2 linked regions of the Homo sapiens genome follow. The protein of the gene in region 1 interacts with the protein of each later gene in a pairwise test. Each region holds a gene or a part of one and is shown in the gene's direction. Other genes may lie near its edges.

The links.
Region 2: the proteins of PHETA1 (region 1) and OCRL interact in binary tests that used the Homo sapiens proteins (3 or more experiments, as listed by UniProt).

Annotation. Positions count from the first base shown.
Region 1 is NC_000012.12:111,360,756-111,377,865, reverse strand, and holds the start of PHETA1 (sesquipedalian-1), read left to right. Parts: upstream 1-8,770; 5' UTR 8,771-8,954; intron 8,955-9,143; exon of another isoform or gene 9,144-9,537; intron 9,538-11,608; 5' UTR 11,609-11,753; intron 11,754-12,214; exon of another isoform or gene 12,215-12,299; coding exon of another isoform or gene 12,300-12,302; intron 12,303-12,309; exon of another isoform or gene 12,310-12,471; intron 12,472-14,402; coding exon of another isoform or gene 14,403-14,438; coding exon 14,439-15,188; 3' UTR 15,189-17,110. UniProt on the Homo sapiens protein: Plays a role in endocytic trafficking. Required for receptor recycling from endosomes, both to the trans-Golgi network and the plasma membrane.
Region 2 is NC_000023.11:129,541,116-129,552,175, forward strand, and holds part of OCRL (inositol polyphosphate 5-phosphatase OCRL), read left to right. Parts: intron 1-3,842; coding exon 3,843-3,922; intron 3,923-7,447; coding exon 7,448-7,486; intron 7,487-11,060. UniProt on the Homo sapiens protein: Catalyzes the hydrolysis of the 5-position phosphate of phosphatidylinositol 4,5-bisphosphate (PtdIns(4,5)P2) and phosphatidylinositol-3,4,5-bisphosphate (PtdIns(3,4,5)P3), with the greatest catalytic activity towards PtdIns(4,5)P2.

The DNA of each region.
Region 1 (17,110 bases):
TAGTAGAGATGGGGTTTCACCATGTTGACCACGCTGGTTTCAAACTCCTGACCTCAGGTGAATCCGCCCACCTCAGCCTCCCACAGTGCTGGGATTACAGGCATGAGCCACCTTGCCTGGCAGAGTTTCTGTTCATTTTTACAAGAAATTGCCAATTTGTTTTCCAGAGTGGCTATACCATTCTACCTTCCCATCAGCAGTATGGAAGTTCAGTTGTTCCACATCCTCACCAGCACTTGGTGTTGTCAGTCTTTTTAATTTTGGCCTTTCTAATTGGAACATGGTATTAGCTCATTTGGTTTCAATTTGCATTTCTCTGATGTGTAATGACACTGGGCATCTTTTCATTGCTTATTAGCCAGTATATCATATTATAGCTTTTTTTTTTTTGAGACAGAGTCTCACTCTGTGTCGCCCAGGCTGGAGTGCAGTGGCACAATCTTGGCTCACTGCAAGCTCTGCCTCCTGGGTTCACGCCATTCTCCTGCCTCAGCCTCCCAAGTAGCTGGGACTACAGGCGCACGCCACCATGCCCAGCTAATTTTTTGTATTTTTAGTAGAGACGGGTTTTCACCAGGTTAGCCAGGATATTCTCAATCTCCTGACCTTGTGATCCACCCACGTCGGCCTCCCAAAGTGCTGGGATTACAGGCGTGAGCCACCACACCTGGCCCATATTACAGCTTTTTATAAAATATCTGTTAACATCTTTTGCCTGGGCCAGGCATGGTGGCTCATGCCTGTAATCCCAGCACTTCAGGAGGCCCAGGTGGGAGGATTGCTTGAGTGTAGGAGTTCGAGACCAGCCTGGGCAACATGGTGAAACTCCATCTCTACCAAAAATACAAAAAAAAAAAAAAAAAAAAAAAAATTAGCCAGGCATGGTGGCGCGCGCCTGTAGTCCCAGCTACTTGGGAGGCTGAGATGGGAGGATGGTTTGAGCCTGGGAAGCAGAGGTTGTCGTGAGCGGAGATCATGCCATTGAACTGTAGCCTGGGCAACAGGACCAAACCCTGTCTCAAACACACACACACACACATCTTTTGCCTGTCTTTAGATTGGGTTGCTTATCTTATTATTGGGTTGTAAGACTTCATTATATAGATCTGGCATTCAGATTCTGTCAGATATATATATCAAGAAAATTTTTTTTCTCAGTTAGTTGGTGGCTTATCTTTTTGTTTCTCTGATGGTATCTTTCCTTTCCTTTCCTTTTCCTTTTCCTTTCCCTTTTCCTTCCTCCCTCCGTCCCTCCCTCCCTCCCTCTCTCTCTCTTTTTAAACAGGTTTTAAAAACAACCTTTATCTTTTTTAAAGTCAATATGGGCCGGGTGCAGTGGCTCACACCTATAACCCCAGCACTTTGGGAGGGTGAGGCCGGCAGATCACCTGAGGTCAGGAGTTCGAGACCAGCATGGCCAACATGGCAAAACTCTGTCTCTACTAAAAACACAAAAATTAGCCAGGCATGGTGGCACACACCTGTAGTCCCAGCTACTTGGGAGGCTGAGGCAGAAGAAATGCTTGAACCCAGGAGATGGAGGTTGCAGTGAGCTGAGATTGCACTCCGGCCTGGACAACAGGGCAAAATCCTGTCTCAAAAAAACAAAACAAAAAAAACCCCCCAACCTACTGAAGTCCAATTTTTATTTTTTTCTAGTTTATGCTCTTTGAGTCTTAAGAAATCTTTATCCTAAAGTTGTAAAGATTTTCTATTTTATTATTTTTAGTTCCTTTTTTTTTTTTTTTGAGGTAGAGTCTTGCCCTGTGGCCCAGGCTGGAGTGCAATGGCGCGATCTTGGCTTGGTGCAACCTCCACCTCCCGGGTACAAGTGATTCTCCTGCCTCAGCCTCCCGAGTAGCTGGGATTACAGGCATGTGCCACCATGCCTGGCTAATTTTGTGTATTTTTTTTTTTTTTTTGAGACAGAGTCTCGCTCTGTCGTCCAGGCTGGAGTGCAGTGGTGCAATCTCAGCTACTGCAACCTCCACCTCCAGGGTTCAAGCAATTCTCCTGCCTCAGCCTCCCAAGTAGCTGGGACTACAGGCACACGCCACCACACCCGGCTAATTATTTTTATTTTTAATAGAGCCAGGGTTTCACCATATTGGTAAGGCTGGTCTCGAACTCCTGACCTCAGGTGATCCACCCGCCTCGGCCTCCCAAAGTGCTGGGATTACAGGCATGAGCCACCATGCCCGGCCCAATTTTTTGTATCTTTAGTAGAGATGAGGTTTCACCTTGTTGGCCAGGCTGGTCTCAAACTCCTGACCTCATGATCTGCCCGCCTCGGCCTCCCAAAATGCTGGGATTGCAGGTGTGAGCCATCGTGCCCGACCTTATTTACTTATTTTTTGGAGACAGGGTCTCACTCTGTCGTTCAGGCTGGGGTGCAGTGGCGTGATCCTAGTTCACTGCGGCCTTGACCTCCTGGGCTCAAGCGATCCTCCTGCCTCAGGTTCCTGAGTAGCTGGGACTACAGGCATGCGCCACCACACCCAGCTAATTAAAAAACAATTTTTTAAGAGATGGGTTCTTACTATTTTGCCCAGGCTGGTCACTAACTCAGGCGATCCTCGCACTTTGTTTGGCCTCCCAAAGTGCTGAGATTACAGGCATGAGCCATTGTGCCTGGCAGCCCCTATTTTCTTCTAGAGATTTTAGAGTTTAGCTTTTATGTGCAAGAGTTTGATGTATTTTGAGTTAATTTTTATGTATGGCATGAGGTAAGTATCAAGGCTGTTTTTTTCTATATGAATATCCAGTTATTCCAGCTCAATTTGATGAAAAGACTAATCTGGATTTTTCCCTTCGAATCTCCATTTTTCCCATTACTTAGGTCCAAAAGTTGAGAGTCCTTTTTATTTTTATTTTTTATTTTTTGTAGAGACGAGGTCTCCACCCACCTTGGCCTCCCAAAGTTCTGGGATTGCTGGTGTGAGCCACTGTGTCCAGCCCTGGGTAATATTTTTATCATTTGTAGAGATGGGGTCTCCCTGTGTTGCCCAAGCTGGTCTCAAACTCCCAGGCTCAAGTGATCCTCCTGCCTCGGCTTCCCAAAGTGCGGGGATTACAGATGTAAGCCAGCATACCTGGCCCTGGAGTTCTTTTTCTTCTTTTCTTTTTTTTTGTTTTTTGAGACAGAGTTTTGCTCTGTCGCCCGGGCTGGAGTGCAGTGGGGTGACCTCAGCTCACTGCATCCTCTGCCTCCCGGGTTTAAGCAATTCTCTGCCTCAGTCTCTCGAGTAGCTGGGATTACAGGCACCCACTACCACGCCTGGCTAATTTTTTTTGTATTTTTAGTAGAGACGGGGTTTCACCATCTTGGCCAGGCTGATCTCAAACTCCTGACCTCGTGATCCACCCACCTTGGCCTCCCAAAGTACTGGGATTACAGGCGTGAACCACTGTGCCCGGCCCCTGGAGTTATTCTTAACTCCTTTTCTTCCTTCCTCTCTCTCTGTCTCTCTCTCATTCCCCACATGCAACCTATCATCAAATTTTACATATATCTTAAATATATATTAATGTGGTTTGGCTGTGTCCCCACTGAAATCTCAACTTGAATTGTATCTCCCAGAATTCCCATGTGTTGTGGGAGGGACCCTGGGGGAGGTCATCGAATCATGGGGGCTGGTCTTTCCCGTGTAATTCTCATGAGAGTGAATAAGTTTCATGAGATCTGATGGGTTTATCAGGGGTTTCTGCTTTTGCTTCTTCCTCATTTTCTCCTGCCGCCACCATGTAGGAAGTGCCTTTCACCTCCCGCCATGACTCTGAGGCCTCCGCAGCCACGTGGAACTGTAAATCCAATTAAACCTCTTTTTGGCCGGGCGCAGTGGCTCACGCCTGTAATCCCAGCACTTTGGGAGGCTGAGGAGGGCAGATCAAGAGGTCAGGAGTTCGACACTTGGACACAGGATGGGGAACATCACACACCGGGGCCTGTCGTGGGGTGGGGGGAGGGGGGAGGGATAGCATTAGGAGATGTACCTAATGTAAATGACGAGTTAATGGGTGCAGCACACCAACATGGCACATGTATACATATGTAACGAACCTGCACGTTGTGCACATGTACTGTAGAACTTAAAGTATTTAAAAAAAAAAAGAGGTCAGGAGTTCGAGACCAGCCTGGCCAACATGGTGAAACTCCACCTCTACTAAAAATACAAAAAATTAGCCAGGCGTGGTGGCAGCTGTAATCCCAGCTACTCAGGGGGCTGAGGCAGGAAAATTGCTTGAACCCAGGAGGCGGAGGTTGCAGTGAGCTGAGACTGCACCACTGCACTCCAGCCTGGGTGACAGAGTAAGACTCCATCTCAAACAAAAACAAAAAAACCCAAAAAATCTCTTTTTGTTCCCAGTTTTGGGTATGTCATTGTCAGCAGTGCAAAAATGGATGAATACAGTAAATTGGTACCAGGAGTGGAGTGTTGCTGAAAAGATAGGCAAAAATGTGGAAGTGACTTTGAAACTGTAACAGGCAGAGGTTGGAACAGTTTGGAGGGCTCAGAAGAAGACAGGAAAATGTGGGAATGTTTCAAGCTTCCTAGAGACTTGTTGAATGGCTTTGCCAAAATGCTGATAGTGATATGGACAATAAAATTCAGGCTGAGGTGGTCTCAGATGGAGATGTGGAACTTGTTGGGAACTGGAGCAGAGGTGACTCTTGTTATGTTTTAGCAAAGAGACTGGCGGCATTTTGCCCCTGCCCTAGAGATCTGTGGAACTTTGAACTTGAGAGAGATGATTTAGGGTATCTGGTAGAAGAAATTTCTAAGCAGCAAAGCATTCAAGAGGTAACTTGCAGGCTGGGAGCGGTGGCTCAAGCCTGTAATCTCAGCACTTTGGGAAGCCAAGGTGGGCAGATTACCTGAGGTCAGGAGTTCAAGACCAGCCTGACCAACATGGTGAAACCCTATCTCTACCAAAAATACAAAAAATTAGCCATGTGCAATGGCGTGCACCTGGTGCCAGCTACTCAGGAGGCTGAGACAGAAGAACCGCTTGAACCCAGGAGGCGGAGGTTGCAGTGAGCTGAGATCACACCACTGCACTCCAGCCTGGGCAACAGAGCAAGACTCTGTCTCAAAAAAAAAAAAAAAAAAAAAAAAAGAAAAGAAAAGAAAAAAATAAGAAGTAAATTGTAATAGAAAGAAAAGCCCATTTTCTGGGGAGAAATTCAAGCCGGCTGCAGAAATTTGCATTACGTAGCAAGGAGCCTAATGTTAATCCCCAAGACCATGGAGGAAATGTCTCCAGGCCATGTCAGAGAACTTCCTGGCAGCCCCTTCCATCACAGGTCCAGAGGTCCAGGAGGAAAAAGTGGTTTTGTGGGCCAGGCCCTGGGTTCCTGTGCTGTGTGCATCCTAGGGAGTTGGTGTTCTGTGTCCCAGCTGCTCCAGCCATGGCTGAAAGGCACCAACACAGAGCTCAGGCTGTGGTTTCAGAGGGTGGAAGCCCCAAGCCTTGGCAGCTTCCATGTGGTGTTGAGCCTGTGGGTGCACAGAAGTCAAGAATTCAGGTTTGGGAACCTCTGCCTAGATTTCAGAAGATGTTTGGAAATGCCTGGATGCCCAGGCAAAAGTTTGCTGCAGGGGCAGGGCCCTCATGGAGAACCTCTGCTAGGGTGGTGCAGAAGGGAAATGTGGGGTTCAGAGCCCCCACACAGAGTCCCTACTGGGGTACTGCCTAGTGGAGCTGTGAGAAGAGGGCCACCATCCTCCAGACTCTGAAATGGTAGATCCACTGACAGCTTGCACTGTGTGCCTGGAAAAGCCACAGATACTCACCACCAGCCCGTGAAAGCAGCCAGGAGGAAGCCTGTACCCTGCAAAGCCACAGGAGTGGAGCTGCCCAAGATCATGGGAACCCATCTCTTGCATCAGCGTGACCTGGATGTGAGACCCGGAGTCAAAGGAGATCATTTTGGAGCTTTAAAATTTGACTGCCCCACTGGATTTCAGACTTGCATGGGCCCTGTAACCCCTTTGTTTTGGCCAATTTCCCCCATTTGGAACGGCTGTATTTACCCAATACCTGCATCCCCACTGTATCTAGGAAGTAACTAGCTTGCTTTTGATTTTACAGGCTCATAGGCAGAAGGGACTTGCCTTGTCTCAGACAAGACTTTGGACTGTGGAATTTTGGGTTAATTCTGAAATTAGCTAAGACTTTGGGGGACTGTTGGGAAGGCATGATTGGTTTTGAAATGTGAGGACGTGAGATTTGGAGGGGCCGGGGCAAAATGATATGGTTTGGCTGTGTCCCCACCAAAATCTGAACTTGATTTGTATCTCCCAGAATTCCCACGTGTTGTGAGTGGGACCCAAGAGGAGGTCATTGAGTCATGGGGGCCAGTCTTTCCTACGCTATTCTTATAATAGTGAATAAGTCTCACGAGATCTGAAGGGTTTATCAGGGGTTTCCGCTTTTGTTTCTTCCTCACTTTCTCTTGCCACTGCCATGTAAGAAGTGTCTTTCACCTCCCGCCATGATTCCAAGGCCTCCTCAGCCATGTGGAACTGTAAGTCCAATTAAACCTCTTTTTGTTCTCAGTTTCGGGTATGTCTTTATCAGCAGTGTGAAAACGGACTAATACATATATCCATTAAATATATATCTATACTTAACCACTTCTCTCCACCTCCACTGCTCCACTCTAAGCCACCACCATCACTTGCTTGGACTACTGCAGTAGTGTTCTCCCTGATCGCCTGGCTTCTACTATCATTCCCTGCCCATAGCAGTCAGGGACCATGTTAAATCTAACACAGACCATGTCCCTCCTCTGCTCAAAACCCTCCCATGGCTCCTCATTCTTCTTAGAGTAAAAGCAAAATCTTTCCTCTGGTCCTTAAGCCCCTAGGTCACCTGGCTTTCTGGCTTTGCCAATAATCTCTGATCTATTGTGTTTTTTTTTTTGTTTTTGTTTTTTTTTTGTTTGACAGAGTCTTGCTCTGTCACCCAGGCTGGAGTGCAGTGGTGCAATCTCAGCTCATTGCAACCTCTGCCTCCTGGGTTCAAGTGATTCTCCTGTCTCAGCCTCCCAAGTAACTGGGATTACAGGTGTACACCACCATGCCTGGCTAATTTTTTTTTTTTTTTTTTTTTGTATTTTTAGTAGAGACCGGGTTTCACCATGTTGGCTAGGCTGGTCTCGAACTCCTGACCTCAAGTGATCTACCTGCCTCGGCCTCCCAAAGTGCTGGGATTATAGGCGTGAGCCACTGCGCCCAGCCAGCTGACCTATTTTCCTACTATTCTTCCCATTGCTCACTTGGCTCCACTGGTCTCCTCGTTGTTCTTCAAACATGCCCAGGATGGCCCCATTTCAGGGCTTTTGCACTTGCTGTTCCCTCTGCCTGGGACCTCCTTCTCCCAGATAACCACATGGCTCCCTCCCTCATTCCTCCAGGTCTGTCCTCAGAGAGGCCTTCCCTGACCACCTTGTCTAAAAGCTGCACTTCCAGCTTGGGCAAGATAGCAAGACCCCCCCGATCTCTACAAAAAATTAAAAAAAATTAGCCGGGTGTGGTGGTACACACCTGTAGTCCCAACTACTTGGGAGGCTGAGGTGGGAGGCTCGGTTGAACCCAGGAGTTCAGGTTACAATGAGCTGTGATTGTGCCACTGCACCCCAACCTGGGTGACAAAAAAACACAAAAAACAAAAAACAAAAACAAAAAAACTGCACTCCCAGGCTTTCTGCCCCATTGCCTTAGCGTACAGTCCTAGCATGAATCACTTCCAGAACTCATTTGTGTTGTCTTGATTCCTGGCTGCACCTGCTTACCTGGTTCAGGTACAGTGCCTGGCACACAGTAGGCGCTTAGTGAGAGGCTGTACAATGGAGAGCTGACCCTGGTCTGTCCTGTTCTTCCTGCTTTCAGGCCAGGACTTAATAGTGATTGGGAGGTGGCGGGTGGTGGAGAAGAGGCGGCAGGAACAGGAAGGAAGGGTTCAAGGAGGTGGGCAGGGCAAAAACAACAGCAATTCCTATTTCTTGAGAGCTTTCTGTTGTGCCGTGCACTTTACATATCATGATGGTCTTTATTTTCCGGATGAGGAAACGGAGGCTTAGAGAAGTGAAATGATTTCTCTAAGCTCACACAGTGTTCAGTGGCCTAGTGCGACTCGAACTCAAGTCTGCCTAATTCCAGAACTTCCTCTCTTCACCTGGAGCCAGGGGAAGCTTGCGAGGCGCCCTGTCCGTATGGAACAGTGCTGTACGCAAATGTCCTGGATTCAGCTGTTTTTTCTGCCACTCACACATTTTTCAGGAATTAGAGCTATTTTTCTAATTTAACTGGGCATTAAATTTGCTAAACCTGGCAACCCAGGTTTAGCAAATATTTTTATTATTTGTAGAGATGGTGGTCTCCCTCTGCTGCCCAGGCTGGTCTTGAACTACTAGGCTCAGGCAATCCTCCTGCCTCGTCCTGGGGGGAGTTCGGACTTAAGCCTAGGACTTCAGCGAATGGCCCGCCCAGGACCCCCAAATGCTTTTGCAGGCTAATCCACGACCTGGGCCAGTCCTTACCTTTGGAATCGCAATGAGCTTCCCGGGCTCCAATCCGCTTTTCTGGGCTAGGGAACTGGGGAGTCGCGAGCCAGGAGCGGACCCTTTAAGAGTGATTTCGAGGGCGGGCTCACGGGGGCGTGCCGGTTCGGGGCCTGCCAATCGGGAGGTGGGAAGAACGCGGGGGCGGGCCCGGCGCGAGCAGGCTGGGAAGGGTTAAAGGGGCGCGCCCGTGGGTCGCGGACTGTCCGGTTGCTCCCGCCTCCTTCCGTCGGATCCGCGCTCTCCCGCGGCTGCGCCGGCCCGGCCGCCCAGGAGACAAAGCGCTGCCGCCGCCGTCGCCGCCACCGGGCCAGTCCCGAACCATGGCCGGGCCACCCCGCAACCTCGCGCCTCCCGTCCCGTCGCCGCCCTAGGCCTGCGCTGCGAGGTAAGGCGGGCCTGGCGGGGGGACATGCACGAGGACATGGGACCCGGGTCGGGCCGCCCTGGGCCTCGGGGTCCCCCGGCCACCTGGAGAGCGCGTTGCGGGGATCTTCCCCGCTGGGACTCCGCACCAGTGGTGACTTCTCCAGCTGCCGAGGCGAACTTGGCCAATGACCACCCTCCCCTCTCTCAGCCCATAGGGACGTCTGCCGCTGGTGGGGACTGCGGATAAGCCCCCCATTCTGCCGCTGATCACCCATCTGGGGCTCTGGCTGTCCTTTAAGGAACTTAAGAGAGCTCCCACGCACAACACACAAAGGGACAGAGAGCAGCCGGGAGCAGGGCCACACCTGGAGCAGCAGCCCCTGCCGTGGACAAGGGGGCTGCCTGTGTCTGGACGGCGGTGCTGGCGTGTCTCTGGGGTCCCTGCTGGGGCGGTGACGGCCAGGCTGCTCTTTAGTGTTCTTGGCACACATGTTTTTCAGCCTGTGCCTGCCACACCCTCTTCCCCACGCCCGCTGCTGGGGGACACTGAGGGCAGCTGGATTCAACCCCAGGACCTGCGGTACTGGCTTCTTTTCGTTGATGTGAGTGCCAAAATGCCATGCTTCAGTCTCCCAGGAGACCTGGGTTCCGGGGCCAGCTGTGCCCCTGGAGATCTTGGATGAATTATTTGCCTTTTTGACAGCTCTTTCCCTGAAAGCTCACTACCCACCAAGTATTTTGCAAAATGACTCTTCAGGAGTCAATTCACTCAGCCCTTAGAGGGATGGAAGTTAACGTCACCATTTTGCAGATGAGGCTGAGAAAAAACTCCGACTCACAGCAGCTAATATTTGCAATCCATTTCCCATAGTTTGCCAGTGGGTTTTCCTTCTTTTAGCTCATGAACCCTCGCCACACAGCCCAATTTAACAGATGAGGACACTGAGACTTGGAAAGGTGAAACGACTTGTCCAAGGTCCTCCAGCCTGGACCTGCGGAGGCAGGAACTTTGCCTTGGGAGCAGAGCTGGGCCAGGCTCCCTCCAGCTTCCTGTCTGGCCATGGGCTGTTGAATCAGCAGCAGTGCCCACAGTGGACTCTGAACTTCTTGGAAAACAGTGTGGGGAGATAAGGCAGGGGCCAGGCCTTCGCTCCAGGCAAGGCTGGCGCCTGTGCCCCTGCAGCTTCCTGTCTTCCCAGTTCTGGTGGAGGCAGGGGTCATGGGCAGAGCTGGGTCCTGTGCCTGCTGGTGACCTTGAACCAGTTTGGCCTCTATCTAGGCAGTCGGGGGAGGAGGGTTGCTGAGCAGGAGGGAAGTTGCTATTCCTTTGGCCTTGATGGGGTGGAGAGACCCCAAGATCAGCCCCTTTATTTGGGTGGCTTGCCTGGAGCATGTGATTCTGGGCACAGTTGTATGCCTCTAGCCAACTTATTGAATCTCCCTGTGTCCATTTCCACATCTGTGAATGTGGGGTGAGATCCCTTGTCTTGGGGCTGTTGAAAGGTTTCAGAAGATACTGCAGAATGAATCAAACAGCTGTGTGAGTACCTACTGCATGCCAGGCACTAGAATTCAGACCACAAACGCCCCTGCAGGCAGAAATGACCCAGGTATTAATTTCAGGTGGAGGCACAGGAGAGGGACTGGGGGGCCTCTTGTGCATAGGGTGGCCAGGGACCACCTCTCTGAGGAGGTGACAGCTAGGCTGAGACCAAAGGATGGGGAGCTGGCCTTGTGAAGACCTGCAGGCAGACAGCCGGGACCAAGTCTTGGAGGTGGGGATGTGTCTGGTGTATTTGAGGAACAGAAAGGAGGCCAGGATGGCTGGAGCTGAGTGAACAAGGGGGAAAGAGGTAGGGAAAGGGAACTTGGAAGCCAAGGGAGGCTTGGATTTTTTTTTTTTTTTTTTTGAGACAGAATCTCACTATGTCACCCCCCAAGTTCAAGGGGTCCTTCCATGTTAGCCTCCCAGATAGCTAGGACTAGAGGCTTGTATCACCATGCCCAGCTATTTTTTTTTCTATTTTTTATAGAGATAGGGTCTTGCTATGTTGTCCAGGCTGGTCTCTAACTCAAGCAATCCTACCCCCTCAGCCTCCCAAAGTGCCAGCATTACAGGTGTGAGCCACCGCACCCTGCCTAAGGATTTAATTTTATGCTGAGAGAAGTAGGGAGCCATGGGAGGGTTTAGAGCAGAGGAGGAGTGTGATTGGACTTAATTTTCACAGGATCCATCTGTGGGAAGTGGATTTCAGTGTGGCTCGGAGAAGAGCTTAGGAAGGAGGCTTGGATCTTACCTTGAGGAACATGGACAGGGAGGGGCAAGGAGACTTATGAGGAGGCTACAGCAGCCATCCCAGTGAATGGTGATGGGGCCTAGAATGGGGAGGTGGAGTGGACAGATTAGGCAACTGATTTGGAAGACGCTGGAGAGGGGGATCAACTGGACTTGATGTGCGATCAGATGCGGGGGTGAGAGGGAAACCAAGGGCCATTTGCTGAGATCGGAAGCACAACACAGGGATGTTTGGGGAAAAGCCAAGAAAAATGTGAACTGCAACCGCGCTCAGCAGGCACTGTGTGCCTGGCCCCATGCTCCGCAAAGTCCATATAGTCACTGTATCATTGTCACAACAGCCCTGACTTAGGCACTGTTACGATCCCATTTTACAGATGCAGAAACAGAGGCCCAGAGAGATGAATAGCCTGCCTGGGGTCCCCCAGCCCAGATGCTGCAGAGCTGACATTTGAATCCAGAGAAGAGCGAGCTGAGGCTGGAGCTGAGCAGAGGGCAGGGAGGCAAGTGGTGGCCTGAGAGGTAGGAGCGGAACTGGGCAAGCAGGGCGGGAGGGTCCTGTGAGAACCGGGGCCAGCATCCACATGGGAGTTGATGGGTGGTGGTGTGGGGAATGCGTGAATCCCTGCGGCTTAGAGAGGGACAGCTGTAGCTGAGAGGCAGGGTGGGGATTCAACACCTGGAGACTTTGGGGGCTCTGGCCTTGGCCTCCCACTAGGTCAGGACAAACTGACCTCAGTTTCTTTTTTTATTTTAAGTTCCATGATACATGTGCAGAACATGCAGGCTTGTCACATAGGTATACGTGTGCCATGGTGGCTTGCTGCACCATTGACCCGTTCTCTAAGTTCCCTCCCCTCACCCCCGATCCCCCAACAGGCCCCGATATGTGTTCTGCCCCTCCCTGTGTCCATGTGTCTCATTGTTCAACTCCCACTTATGAGTAAGAACATGCGGTATTTGGTTTTCTGTTCCTGTGTTAGTTTGCTGAGGATGATGGCTTCCAGCTCCATCTATTTCCCCGCAAAGGACATGATCTCATTCCTTTTTATGGCTGGATAGTTTTCCATGGTGTGTATGTACCACATTTCCTTTATTCAGTCTATCATTGATGGGCATTTGGGTTGGTTGATCTCAGTTTCTAAGTCACAACTCATGTTCCGTCTTCTAGGAAGCCTTCCCTGACTGCCTATGTGGCTGACAGGAGGTGGCAAGGACAACCCCCTCCACCCTAGGACAGGTAGTCTGGCAGGGCCTCACTGCGGTCACCTGCTCCCAGGAGAGCCACCACCCTGACCTCATTCCACCAGGCTCTGAGAAAGACACCACCCAGGCAGGGGAATGAACACTGAGTGCCTACTGCGTACCAGGACTTTATATCCTTTGCTTCTTGAAAAATGTAGCTACCATCCTATGCAGGCTGAGGCTCTGCAGTGGGAGATAAGGCAGGCTCTCAAAATGGCCATGGAAAACCCCAAGGGAAGGTGGCCAGGCCAGGGACGCAGATGCCACCTCCCGACAAGTCCTTCCTGGCCAGCGTTGCCCCATCATATACTCCTTGGGGGAAGGTGGATGGGGTCACTGTGGCCGATGGCATGGAGTTAGAGTCCTCTATGCTAAATGGCACGGGTCGACCCCCTGCCCCTCCTTCCTGTAAGTCAGCCTAGCCCTGGGCCTGCATCTTTCCCCAAATTCTTTCTTTTTTTTTGAGACGGAGTCTGGCTCTGTCCCCAGGCTGGAGTGTAGTAGTGCAATCTCGGCTGACTGCAACTTCTGTCTCCTGGGTTCAAGCACTTCTCCTGCCTCAGCCTCCCAAGTACCTGGGATTATAGGCACCCCCCACCATGCCTGGCTATTTTTTTTTTTTTTTTGAGATGGAGTCTTGCTCTGTCGCCCAGGCTGGACTGCAATGGCGCAGTCTTGGCTCACTGCAACCTCCGCCTCTTGGGTTCAAGCGATTCTTCTGCCTCAGTCTCCCAAGTAGCTGGGATTATGGGCGTGCACCACCTCACCTGGCTGTTTTTTAGTAGAGATGGGGTTTTGCCATGTTGGCCAGGCTGGTCTCGAACTCCTGACCTCAGGTGAGAAGGATTGGCCTTGGCCTTCCAAAGTGCTGGGATTACAGGCGTGAGCCACTGTGCCCAGCCCCTGTCTTACTATTTTCCATAGAACATGAGACTACCTGGCAGACGTCTTATCTGTTTGTTAACTGTCTGCTCCCTTTCACTTGCCAGTGGCATTTCAACACCACGAGGGCAGGGACCGTGTCCATCTTTTTTTTTTTTTTTGAGACAGAGTGTCACATTATTGCCCGGGCTGGAGTGCAATGGCATAATCTCGGCTCACTGCAACCTCCGCCTCCTGGGTTTAGGTGATTCTCCTGCCTCAGCCTCCCGAGTAGCTGGGATTACAGGCGCCCGCCACCACGCCTGGCTTATTTTTTGTATTTTTAGTAGAGAAGGGGTTTCACTGTGTTGGCCAGGCTGGACGACCCTGTCCATCTTGTTATTGCTATATCCCTAGGCCTGGAACAATGCCTGGCACCCAGTAGATGCTTAATAAACATTTTATGAATGAAATCAATCTCTACAACTCTCCAAAGTTGGTTCTGCTCATCCATTTCATGGATGAACAAACCAAAGTCGAACCACAAAGTCAGGGCTGGGACCTGGCAGGGACTGCAGAAGGCCAGCTGGTCTTGTTCTTGGGATGATGGAAACAGCAGCGCCTGAAATGAGGCCTGGGTTTGGATTTCAGCCCTGCCCAACCTGCTTTGTGACACCAGGGAAGCAGTTAACCTCTCTGTGCCTCTGTTTCCTCATCTGTTGCACTGGTGCCAGGCCAGTCCCTGTGACCTAAGGTCTATTGTGAGATAAAGTGAGTTCATTCCTCTGAAATGTCTGGCATGCAGCAGGAACTCACAACATTATTTCAGGGATACAGGAGGGTAGGAGGTTATGAGGCTGTCTGGGGAGGCCCGTGAGACCCAGGTTCCAGTCCTGTCTCTGCTTCTTAGGAGTTGTGGGCGCATAGGCCAGCTGCTTCCACCCTATGAGCGTCAGTTTCCTCATCTGTGAAACGGGGATGTAGAGTGGCTGCAAGGTCCCCTTGGGGCACTGGGTGACCTAGCGTCAGTGGCCTTGTGCATAACAGCCCTTCTATGGGGTCCAGGCCCCAGGCTCCCCTCCAGGCCCCGCGATTGCCACCATGAAGCTGAACGAGCGCAGCCTGGCCTTCTACGCCACCTGTGACGCCCCGGTGGACAATGCAGGCTTCCTGTACAAGAAGGGTGGGCGGCACGCGGCCTACCACCGGCGCTGGTTCGTGCTGCGCGGGAACATGCTCTTCTACTTCGAGGACGCTGCCAGCCGTGAGCCCGTGGGCGTCATCATCCTGGAGGGCTGCACTGTGGAGCTGGTGGAGGCCGCCGAGGAGTTCGCCTTCGCTGTGCGCTTTGCGGGGACCCGGGCGCGCACCTACGTGCTGGCCGCTGAGAGTCAGGATGCCATGGAGGGCTGGGTCAAGGCCCTGTCGCGTGCCAGCTTCGACTACCTGCGGCTGGTGGTGCGCGAGCTGGAGCAGCAGCTGGCGGCTGTACGTGGCGGGGGTGGCATGGCCCTGCCCCAGCCCCAGCCCCAGTCCCTGCCCTTGCCCCCGTCCCTGCCCTCTGCCCTGGCCCCAGTCCCATCCCTGCCTTCTGCCCCAGCCCCGGTCCCAGCCCTGCCCCTGCCCCGCCGGCCCAGTGCCCTCCCGCCCAAGGAGAATGGCTGCGCTGTCTGGAGCACTGAGGCCACCTTCAGGCCTGGACCCGAGCCCCCTCCACCACCGCCTCGCCGCCGGGCCTCGGCACCCCACGGGCCCCTGGACATGGCCCCCTTCGCCCGGCTGCACGAGTGCTATGGCCAGGAGATCCGGGCCCTGCGTGGCCAGTGGCTCAGCAGCCGGGTCCAGCCCTGAGGCCACCAGGGCGCCTGTTTTAGGGGGACACAAGCTCTATGCCCTCTGGGACAGGCCGGGTCCTGGAGAGACTGGGGGAGCAGATCCTGAGGGAAATCATGGGCAAGGCTGGCCCCCAGGCCCTGAGTGGCCTGGTTTTGGGGGATGCAGGCTCTGAGAAGGTGCTGGATTCTGAGTGGGCCTTTAGGACCATGTGACCCAGAAGGCCTACCCTTGAGGGGAACGTCACGTGCAACACTAAGGAGAATCCAGGGCCTGAGGGGGAGGTTTCCTGAGAACTCCGGCCCCAGGCTGGCCTGAGCTGCCGGGCAGAGGCCTGTGCTGGCAACAGGCATTGCCGGGCCTGCAGCTCAGAGGGTCACTGGGACTGAGGGCGATCTGTGGCCTGAAAAGCAAATGCACAGTTAGTGCAGCTCCTGACCAGGCCTTCAGGGTGGACAGAGGGAGGATCGGTCATGGCAGCCACACCTGGGCCTGGCCTTGCTCCGGGACCTGCCAGAGGAGCTGGCCTGGCTCTGTGCCTGCCTGCCTCCAGGAGCAGGACGGTGGCTGGGAGGGTAGTGACTGGGGACACAGGTGCAGGTGTTAGTGCAGGACCGGAAGGGTGAGGTGGCCTGGTCCTCGGGGCTCCTGGCCTGGGCTGGCTGAGGCAGGACTCTGCCAAAAGTCCCCTGCCAGGCCTCATGGTGGTGCTCCTGGTGGCAGTGGCTCTCTGGCCGCGGGCCCTGTCTGTGTCTCCGTGGTGGCTCTCACAGGGCTCTCCAGACACTCCTTGACTGCATCCTTCAGTCTTGGCCCCTAGGCCTGGGGCCCCTTGGGAGCTTGCCTGACCTCCCTTCCTGGGCTGGGTAGCCATGGCCCGAGGTGACCTTCTAGCAGGTTCCCCCAGGGAGGGGAGGCCACCAGCTGACTCACCGCCTAGGAAGGCCCAGGTGCTGACCTAGTGGCGGAGAAAAAGCCGCACACCGAGTGTGGCTTCCAGAGCCCCTCTTCAGCTCCAGGCAGCCCCCTCTAACATGTCCCCTCCTGAGCTCAGCCCCCACCCCCATACTCCTGGTGGGGACCAGGTCTTGCTTGGCTTCGGGGCTGACCGCCGGTCCCCTTTCTTCTCACCACAGTGCCCATTTTTCATCCAGGGAGAACCTCGGGGCTGGGACACCTCCTGGCCCTCACCCTGGGTCATGTTTACAGTCCTCAGTGCCCCACACCGGTGGCCCCCTGAGGACACCTCCACCCTGACCTTGATTTTCCCAAACGCTGCCTCTTGGTGACAGACTCAGCCCAAAACCCCTTCCTTCTGTCTCTGGAGACCCTTGAGCTTGGGGAAATATGGAGGGGTGTGTGTCTGCAATCAAGGCCTCTGCAGCTCACGGCTGGCCCGGTGGGCTGGGACTTCCGTCTGAATTTTAAATACTTAGGGTTCATTTTTTTTTCTCTGGCAACAAAGCTTGATGTTTTCACTGCTTTAGTTTCCTGTTTGCTGGTGGGAGGGGATACGGTCTGTGACTCTGGACTTGCTCTGGGGGAACAGTTGTCACTGCCCCCGGGGAGAGGGGCAGCTTGGGCTGGAGAAGCACAGCCAGAGACAGAGCCCCTCGAGAGGGATCCTTGGCTGCTTCATTGTCTTCCCCCCAGCAAGCCCTGCTCTCCACAGGCACCTCTGGGGTCTTGGTATGGTCCCCGCTCACCTCCTTCCAGAGTCCTGAGTGGTGTGGGTGTGGGTGGCACAGGATCTGGGGCATGGGAGGGGTTCAGAGCTTCCCAGAGCCCCGTGTCCTGGCAGACTCAGCTGGTGGGCTGGGGTGTTAACCCCAGTCCTGGCGTAGGTTTACAGACTCTCAAGGTACGTTGGCCCTGGTCTCCTGGGAGAGAGGGGTGAGGGATGTCCCCTACCAAAGCACAAGGTGGGATCAGGCTGCCTC
Region 2 (11,060 bases), on another chromosome or scaffold:
GTCAATAAAGCTTTCTGGGCCAAAGTTAACTCTTCAGTTTAATAAAACCATTAACTGCCTTACCTTACAGCCTTTGGAATTATAACTGGGGGAAAAATAAATGCGAGAGTGGCTTCCAAAAAGTAAAAGTGCTATGGAAATGCTTCATTGTTAACGTTACAGACTTGTCTTAACCCTATTCAGCTGGTTTCTCCAGTCTCCCCGTCCCCTTATCCCACTGGGTTGAAGGCATATTCATTAATTCAGTAATGGTTTAGTGTAGGCCAGAAACTGCCTCACTTACTGACTTTACTGTTAGAAAGAAAAGGTAATGAAATGTGTAGAGATAGAAATGACAGTATTTTATCAGTGTGTCACCTTCCTCTCTGCCATAGGAGCTCCGTAAATACTGTTGACTGATTGATCAAAAGATTATTTTGATAAGCTATCACCATAGCTGCTAACCTCACTCTATTGTCACTAATATCTTATCTCAAAAATATCCATGGTGACCATTACGTATCATAGGCCCCTATCCCTGTGTGCCCAAGACACCTCACTTGGATATTCATTGGCTTCTTGACATCATATTCCTTCCCAGTTTAAAAATTGTTCACTTAAATCTTGCCATCTCCCAACATTGGCTTCTGCCTAAAACCAATTTTCTCAGTCCCCACTTTTAGATCCTCTGTATCTATGCTGTCAGATTTACACGGAAGAAATTCCCACTGGCCCAACCTGCTCTTCTCTGAGACTATTGGTGCCACTCTAACTGGATGTCAGCTAATTCTGTGAAGTAGCTCTTTCATAGGTCCTGCTTAGTCAGCTCTACTGGGAAGTTCATCAAACCCGGATTTCATCAAACCCTGGAAGACTAGTTTAATGAAACTAAACTAAATTCAGAATTTAATAAAACAAAATTCAGCAGAAAAGTGGAACACCACTAACATTTCCAAAGGCTAGAGTGGGTTACAGAGAGGTGACCCTTGGGCAAACCAGTAAAACTTGTGTGCCTTGGTTTCCTCTAATGTAAAAACAAAATCATGAAGATTGAATAGAGTAGCTACATTGTTGAGATGACCACAGCCCAGAATCTAGTCCCTCGGATTAGTAGATTTGGAACTCTGTTGAGCTAATAAGGAAGTCGTGTGTTCCAATTCTGTGTAAGTTATGGGGGTATAGTTGGGGGTATATGTGGGGGTATGGGGCTGCTATATAACTAACATTAATATATAGGTAACACTATATAACAACTATATAACTAACAACTAATATAGTTGTTGCTATATTAGCAGTTTATATATAAACTATGTAAATAGTTTTAAATATATATAAACTATAGTTTTAAATACATATAAACTATAGTTTATATATAAACTAACATATAACTAACAACTAATATAGTTGTTGCTATATAACTAACATTCAATGGCTGCTTATGTGCCAGGTACTGTTCTAAGCCCTTTTCATTAGTTAGTTCATTTAATCCACATGTGAGGGTTACTATAAGATAGTAATATCATCATCCCCCTTTTATAGATACAGAAATTGAAGCACAGACAGGTTAAGTCACTTGTTTGCAATTAGGGAGTAGAATACCTGAGATCTGATCCTATGTAACATGTCTCAGAATTACACTGAGAAGTTTCTCTTGAAAGCATTTGCTGGAGACACCTAATACCATAATACCATCTGTAATCCTCATATTCTTGTCTCTCTGGTGTCTTTTCTGACTCGAGTGTCCAGAACTTTTTACTTTTGGCTTTTTTATCCTAGAACTTGAAGCCTGACTTAAATCTTTAGGTCTGTGGTTCCTACTGTCAACCATAGGAAATTTGCTTGACCAAAATTACAATTAAAAATCAGGGTTTTTTTGGAAACAGGGAATCAAACACTTAAGATTCATATTTTTCAAGGATAATAGATTATGACAAAACCTGTTTGACCTTTAACCTTCCTTGAACAAATCAAAGTGTTTCCTAGGGATAAGGCAGAGTTGGCATTCAGGATTTGTCACTCTTTTCTGTTTGACAACTACCAAATTCTGAATTCCATTGTTTTGCTGTATACCAATTATTTCTAATCTTTATATTCTGAAATGAATAATTACACTCAGAATTTTTATGCTTATTCTTAGCCCTACTCTTTTATTGTAATTTAGTGGGTAACACGTAGTAAATACTCAATAAATGTTGGTGAAATTCACTTAAATTCTCAGTTTATTTGTTTTGTAATAGTTTTTAACAGTACTGTCCAGATGAAGCTTTAATGCTAATGTTCAACACCATTTCTTGTTTATGTATTTTGAGATTTTAGTGGTTTGTGTTTATCTTCCTCAAAGTAAGCTCTTCCTCCTTAACCCTTGATTTCTCAGCCTTTTATCTGGTTTCTGGTTTCCATCTGGGTTTATAGGACTCTCCACTCAACTCATGAACTTTCCAGATGGAAAGGGGCCTGCCCCATATTCCTGTAATCACCTTAGAGTACAAACCCCTGCAAATTAGGCAAGAAGGATCACAGCAGAAAAACAGCATTAATACTTTTATTTCCCTTAGTTCTATCTAAGTAATTACTTATCCTATCCCAGGTTATCCTCTTCAAAGTTAACACATTTGAAAATGCAAAAAGCAAAAGCAACAAGCACCCCCAAAAGACAACAAAATAGAAATCAAACCCTTCAAAACAATGACATTTTAATGTCAGAAGTTGGACAGTTTCATTGAAAAATTCACCGCTGCTTATAGCTTAATTAAGCTAGTTAATTTATTCAGCCAGTATTTGTTGAGCATCTATTAGGCTGCAGACAAAACTGAATATGATCTGGTCTTTGCTTTCAAGGAGCTGAAATCAGTGAGGGGAAATAAATATAACCATAATGGAGTGTGTAAGTGTTCTATTAGAGGGGCAAACAAAGGCGATAAGGCTGCTGGTTCTGCTTGGGGGTACTGAGGACAGTTTCATGGAGGAGGTGATATTTGAGATGAAACTCGGAAAGAAACAGAGTGTTCCTGACAAAAAACTAAAAACAATACTTGAAGAGTGCTTGACTTTGAGAATGCTAGTTGACGTTCAGAATGGCTGTTTACCAGTAGGTCGTACCTTGATTCTGGACCACTAAGGATAAATAATAAATGAAAAATTAATATTTCAGGAGTACGTATGGATTTAGAAGTATGGATTTCATCTGGGGAGTCAGGTTTACTCATGTTTATGTAGAAATACCAGCGTAAACTTGGAAACCAGAGAAGAAACAAGGGATTTGAAGGCAATCCAGTTGTGATATCTGCCACCTTGTTGGTCACTGATATTTTGACCAATCCAGCTGGCTGAGCACCCCCTCTTACTCCTCCATGAACCTGAATGCTTGTTTGAAGAGACAGATCCATTCTTTGGTAAAAAGCCATGGGAATATAATTGGAAGGTTAATTTATGAATTTTCTAATTCATTGATTCCACACACACGAGCAACTCCTGTGTGCCAGGCTTTGTGCTAGGTACTAGAAATTCCGTGGTGTAAAGATAGCTGTGGTCCCTGCACTCATGGACTTCACATCTAGCTGTCAGTTCTTCACTCTGGTATGCATACTCTGAAGCTATATACTCTGTAATTCATGCTCTTAAGCTTGTACACTGTTTTTAGGATATATGGCCTAGAGAACAGTGTGGGTAATCAGATGTTCATCACCACTAGCATCCTTTTAGGCCTAGAGCAATATCTAGCTGTCATGATGCTCAGATCCAGGGAACTAGATGCAGCAAGTCTAGTAAATACAGACTAGATTTGTATAACAGGACAGTGAAGTATTTTTTTGCTAAATGAGTTTTTCAGTGGCTGTTCTTTGATGCGTTCTTCTGTTTCCTAGGTTAATAATCCAGTTGCATGAGAAGGAACAGCATGTTCAAGATATCATTCCTATAAATAGCCACTTCAGATGTGTTCAAGGTACTAGCTTTAATTCCTTAGCTAGTTTTATAATGTTTTTTCTCGGTCATTACTGCATTATGTAATACCATACATATTTAAATTTGTCAGTGCATGTAAAATGAAATGTATTACTCTTTGCATAAAAAGATAACATTGAGGAGATGATACTTTCTCTAAGAATGCTGAAGGGTTATATCGAAATATATTTGTATATGTGTGTCTATAGTCTCACCTGTTTCCTTGGCTTGGGTTAGAGATGTATGTAGATTGTTACCTGTGTAGGTAGTTTTTTATGCTGACTGACCTATATGTGGATTTAAATAACATTCTTGGGCTTAACGGACACAGTGCTCATAAGGTACCAAGGTCACTTGGATTCACACACATTCAGCACTTTCTCCACATGCTATTTGAAATTAAGACATTTGGCAACATGCCTTGCCAGACTGTAATATCTTACACTCAATTGTGCTGATTCTCAAACCTTGACATTGGTGAATCATAAGAAAATTGACTCTGGGGAGGAAATATTTGGCCTCCTGCCCTCAAATTTGGGGACGGAGCATAGAAAATCTGTTGTTTCATCTGCTACAATGAAACTTAAAAATTGGGAGGTTTGTGTAGGAGGTGTTGCTTCTGTCATCTCACATTGCTCTAGAAAGGAAATTGATACTAGAGAACAAATGCATTCTGTTTTCACTAGGACCAGTGGCTTTATCTAGCAGAAGCATTCTGTATCAATTGTAGCTTCTTGGAAAACTTGTTTTTTCAAGACAAGGTCATTTCCCAGGCTCAAGTGATCCTCCCACTTCAGCCTCCCAAGTAGCTGGGACTGCAGGTGCACCACCCCCCAGCTAATTTTTTTTGTAATTTTTGTAGTGACGGGGTTTCGCCATGTTGCCCAGGCTGGTCTCAAACTCCTGAGTTCAAGCAATCTGCCTGTCTCGGCCTCCAAAAGTGCTGGGATTACAGGTGTGAGCCAGCATGCCTGGCCTTTCTTGGAAAACTTAAATCTTACCTTGCATGGATTATTTCTTAAACTACATTGAACTTTTTTTTTAATCACTAAGTGACATGTACATAATGTAATACATTTGGAAAGAACAGAAAAGTGTAAAGAAAATAGGTCACTTAAATTCCCATCCTTTCAGAGATAAACACCTAGCATTTTCCTTTTTTCTACACATACATTGCAGGGTGAGTGATACTCATCTTATACAATTTTTTGTCTCTTCTACATGCTATTGTATTATGAGCACTTTTCCATGCCATTAATGGCTATATACCATACCAGTTTATGAATGGTCCATAATGTAATTATTCCCCTATGTTGACATTTGGGTTATTTTTCACTAGTATCAATAGTAATATGATGAACATCTCTGCACCTAAATATACCTGCACATCTCTTATTTCCTCAGGATGTATTCCTATAAGTGAAAATACTAAGCTAGTGGATATGACTTTTTAAGAATGCATGTGTTAAGAATTAAAAATAACTTCAATGAATAGTGTCCATATTTGTATGGAAGAATGAAGTGATAGCTATTTAGCCTGCCCTATGTGAGAGAGACATACTAAACAAGGTAGCCACGTTCCATAGTAAGTTGCTGTGGCCACCTCACTTTTCAAGGTGTAGGCCTTCACAGAGGGGAAGAGCCAAAGAACATGACTTTAAATTAATATCCTATTAGCTTTGTACCTTTTTACTCTACCTCTAGGATCTCTTTTACCCTGTTTCTCTTAGTATTTTTAATAAGAAATCAATTGCTGATTGTTAGATCGTAGTGCTGCTTCTTAGAACCTGGGAAAATATGTGCACACATGTAACGTAGTTCCCCATGACTAAAGGAAGACTTACTTTTGATTTTCATCTCCTTTCTATTTCCTGACCCCTGCATCTATTTTGTAAACTGTGGCCAGGCGCGATGGCTTGCACCTGTAATCCCAACATTTTGGGAAGCTGAGGCAGGAGGATTGCTTGAGCCCAGGGGTTCAAGACCAGCCTGGGCAACATTGCGAGACCCCATCTGTACAAAAATAAAATTAAAAAAACAACATTTGCCAGACGTGGTGGCAGATACATGTAGTCCCAGCTACTTGGGAGGCTGAAGCAGGAGGGTTGCTTGAGCCCAGCAGTTCGAGGCTGCAGTGAGCTGTGATTGTGCCACTGCATGCTAACCTGGGTGAGAGAGTGAGGCCATCTCTAAAGAAAAAGAAAACCGGCTGGGCGCGGTGGCTCAGGCCTGTAATCCCAGCACTTTGGGAGGCCAAGGTGGGCAGATCACAAGGTCAGGAGATTGAGACCATCCTGGCTAACACGATGAAACCCCGTCTCTACTAAAAATACAAAAAATTAGCCGGGCATGGTGGCGGGTGCCTGTAGTCCCAACTACTCGGGAGGCTGAGGCAGGAGAATGGTGTGAACCTGGGAGGCGGAGCTTGCAGTGAGCCGAGATCGTGCCACTGCACTCCAGCCTGGGTGACAGAGCAAGACTCCGTCTCAAAAAAAAAAAAAAAAAAAGAAAAAGAAAACCATCTGTAAACACTCAGGTTTTACAGAACTAAAAGTTAATGAAGAACAGTAGTAAGCATACAATATCTATGTCTTGATGCCCTAATTCCCCTTGTTTAATCATCCTAATAATAATATCGAGACTACTTTTTAGTGTTAAAGGAGTTAGTTCCTTGCCAGTTGCTTCTGTTGTACCTGAGTAATGGAGCCAAATAAACAATTCAGTCTTGGGAGGGAGGTGAAAAAGGTGAGACTACTCCATTTGACCAAGGTAGATCCAGGCTAATCCCAAGGAGTCAGTACCCAGAGTTCAATTAGCCAGGAGGGTCTGGCAGGTGCACTTGGTCAAATCCAGAGAAATCAGAGGGGAAGAGATAGGTTGGGTCTAGACACTTGTTGTAAAGGAAGAAGTCCAGGAGAACCATTGAGAGATAAGAGAAATCCAAACTTGCAGACTGCTTTGCACCCTGTTTGGTACGGAGGGCCTTGGGCCCACAGGTAGTAGTTGTAACCTGAAGGTATACTCTGCCCCCATGTGTGGGGCAGGGGCAGAGGTGATGAGATCACTGGGAAATTTTCAGAGAATAGATCTGAGTTAAGAAAGTAATTCACCTCTGGGCTTTCAGGGTCACTTCCTTTGCCTTCTGTTATCTAAAGAAGTATCTAAAGGACCCAGAGTTAAATCATTATGTTACAGTTAAGGGGAATTAAACTTGCTTTCGCTGAATTAACATGTTGTTATGTTCTGTACTATTAATTTCTCATTCGTTGATTTGCTTTGAGGAGTTCCATTTGGTTACTTCTTCAGTTCATTTTTATTTTAGTTGATTTGCTCATAGTCTTTAGAACCCAGTGCTATAAAAAATCCCTTTAAAAAATATTAAACGAAAAGGGATTTAAAAAAATATGTTCTAAGACCTAGGAGTAGTGACTGAGAGAAGCAGTTATTTAGTTAGGCATGTATTCTTTTGGTTGTAGTGAGTGGTTTTCTCTTCCCTAATCCTACTCTCTTTTTTTTCCCCTCTCAGAAGCAGAAGAAACTCTTTTGATTGACATAGCTTCTAACAGTGAGTATCTTTCTGAATGTGCTTGATTTTTACTCAACAAATATTTACTTGAACACTCACTACATTTAAGACACCTTTTGGGGCACATTTTTTATTTTACCATCTTTTCCTGTAGTCTCCTGTAGCAGCCATACAAATTAGCACTGTTTCCCAAAAACATGTAGGCTAAGCCTAAGAAAAAGCAGGTGGCTGGTAAGAATCTTTATAAAAATAAAAAATAATGATCTACCTTTCTAATGCTGAACTTCCGTGAGCTACCAGTATTGTTGCTGTCAGTTGAATCATTGCTGTAGAATTGATAATTGTAGGAAGGGCTGATGTTTAAAGCACATAAGGTTTATTGGTGGAGTTTTTTTGGTCATTTTTTAACTGCTATTACATTTTAAGTTTTTTCCCTACCCTCTTTTTAAATTTTGTGTGTTAAGTCATAATATTTTCCTTTATTTGTTGTATTTTTTTGGAAGGCTGAAGAGTCCCTTAAATTGCTTGTCCAGGCATTCCTTTAAAAAAAAAAGTTTAGTCTTTTATTTAAGCCCCATCCCCTCAAGGCATCTCTTTATTAGAGGGAACATGATCTTCTTTTCAATGTTTCCATTCTCTCATTTTTATCTGTTTGAAGCAAATCATCTTTGACTTTCTGTGCAAACTGTTCTTTGTTTATCATCTAATTGTACTATTTTATGGAGTGGAGAAAATGGGCACTCGATGCTACTGTGAGGTTGCTATGGAAAAGAGTATCTGACCACATGAATCTAAATCAAATGGGTTGCCTTATCTCTTGGTTGAGTCCTTGGATGAGTGGGAACTGGCACTGAGCTTGGGACTAGGGGTTTACATAACTTTGTTTAGACAGTCCCTGCCCTTGGCACTATTAATTTGTATTGAACACTTTAAGTAGGCTTTTTTTCTGGCTTGAGTTTTTTTTTTTTTCCCTTTGGTCGTGAATTTTAGAAGTCTTAAAGGCTGTGCCTGAAAGGCCAGGTAAACCCCAGCTGCAAGTATCCAAGAGAGAAAATAACTTAATGTCTATTTCTTATTGTGCTTAGAAAGGAGAAGGCAAAAACAACACTTAAAAAAGCAAAACTAGAACAAAAGCAATTCCATAACAACTGACACTGCTGCTGAAATAAGAGATGGAAATGTCCTGTATTTGATGTGGAGAAGTATTTGATTCAAAGCTGAAAAGTTAAACTGAGCTGTGCCTTTTCTCTTATAAGCACCTAATTTTCGGCATTAGTTTTGTTGTGGCCGCTTCTACATTAGCCATGTGTTGCTATGTCCAGAGTTCTAGTTACTGGCTCATAGGGGGAAAATAGGTAAGTGACCACTTGAATAAAATCCTTTGTTATTTCTACCCATTTAGTAGTATTTGCACTGAAACCATATTTTATCTTGATCCTTGGGCTTCATACATAAACCTTTATGGTACACGGTGTGTTGCAGGAAGGAGATCTTGGGTTTGTTAGGCAGGCCTGATTTTAATGTAAATATGCATTTTCCCATTGTCTGGATATTGGTGTTAAATGCTTTGTAAATAATTTTTTCTCACAGAAGTAATACATCTTCATTATATACAATTTACTAATTCAGAAAAGCTTAAAGTATCAAATTAAGATTATTTTCCTGCAATCTAGAGATCACCACTGTGGTTAACATTTTTATGTATTTCCTTCCAGTCTTTATATTTTTACATAATTGGAATCCTCATATGCAGTTTTTATCCTGCGTCTTCATTTAACATTATATTGTCCCATTTTCTTATGTCATTTACAATTACTTTATAATATGCTTTTTAAAAACCAAATATTTCACCATAGGTCTGTGCCAAATTTTATTAAATTAACTTCTTTATAAAATTAAGTCATTGTCAAGGAACATGATATATCTGTTTTTTTCAGGTCCTCTTTTATATCTTTCAATAAAATTTTATAGTTTCTTAATATATATAGTTTTTAGGTTAAGTATTTCGTGGTGGATTTTATTTGCTGCTATTGCGAGTGGAGGTTTTTTCTATGTCCTTCTAATTGTTTATTACTAGTATACAGAATAGCTGTTGAGTTGTGGATATTTATCTTTTATCCAGTTGCTTCATTGAAATTTATTTTTAATCTTTTTTGCTTTTCATTTTGTTTTTTCATTTTGGTAGCTAACCTTAATATCTATAAATAATAATTTTGTCTCTTTTCTAGTAGCTACTATCGTTGTACACTATACCAGTGAGAATTTTGGGACCAGTGGTAAATGATGATGTTTCTTGTTTGGCTCCTGATTTCAGTGAGAATGCCTCAAGTGGTATTTCACTGTTAATGACATTATTGCTTGTTGATTTGACAGGGTTTTTTTTTTTTTTAATTAAGAAACTGCATTTATTTCAAGTTTGTGTTTTTTAAAATTATGAATGTATACTGAATTTTAGCAAATGTCTTTTTGGTATTTATGGAGATGATTTTATTCTTCCTTATTTGACCAATTGGTACACTGTATTGTACTAATTTCCTAAAATTAAACTGTCCCTTGTTTATCCATTATTCAACAAATATTTGTTGAGTGCCTTCTATTTCTCAGGCACTTTTGTAAGTGCAGAATCAGTACAGAACGACAAAGATAAAGTTGCTGCTCCTACTTTGGTTCTTGCTTCTGTGCAATTCAGTACTAGTGTCACACAGATACCTATAATTCAATCATTCATTCTATAAAAATATGACTATTTTTTATGTGCCAGGAACTACACTAGGCTCTAGGGATATAGCAGAAAGCAGTACAGTCATGATACTTTAAGGATTTTAATATAGGAAACAGACTTTAAACTGATAAGATATAGATAATTGTAGTTTTTTTTGTTTGTTTTTTTGAGATGGAGTCTTGCTCTGTCATCCAGGCTGGAGTGCAGCGGTGCCATCTTGGCTCACTGCAAGCTCCGCCTTCCAGGTTCACACCATTCTCCTGTCTCAGCCTCCCGAGTAGCTGGGACTACAGGCACCTGCCACCATGCCTGGCTAATTTTTTGTGTTTTTAGTGAAGACAGGATTTCACCATGTTAGCCAGGATGGTCTCAATCTCTTGACCTCGTGATCTGCCCGCCTTGGCCTCCCAAAGTGCTGGGATTACAGGCGTGAGCCACCGTGCCTGGCCCAGATAATTGTAGTTTTAATAAATGCTCTTGAGGAAAAGTACTAAGAGTTTATGAGAAGAGTAAGTATATTAGGAGGGTGGTCAGGGAAGACCTCTTTGAAGAATTGACATTTAAATTGAGACCAGAGGGGCTAAGTAAGAGGCAGGTTAAGATGGGAGAGAGAAGAATTTACCAGGTAAAGGGAATCACAAGGCTCCAGGCTGGGAAGTAGCTTGACACTTTTCTTTGAAGTGATAGAAGACCAGGGTGCCTAAAACAGGTCTTGGGCACCAAGGTAAGAAAAACAGGCTAGGGGGCAGATCTGGCAGGATCTTGTAAGCCTTGTCTTAAATCTGAATTTTGAGATTTCAAAAATGAGAATCGTATGAAGGATTTTATGCTGGGGTGTCATCATTTGCATGGAAGCAGAGAGACCAGTTAGGAGGCTGTTTCCATAGTGTA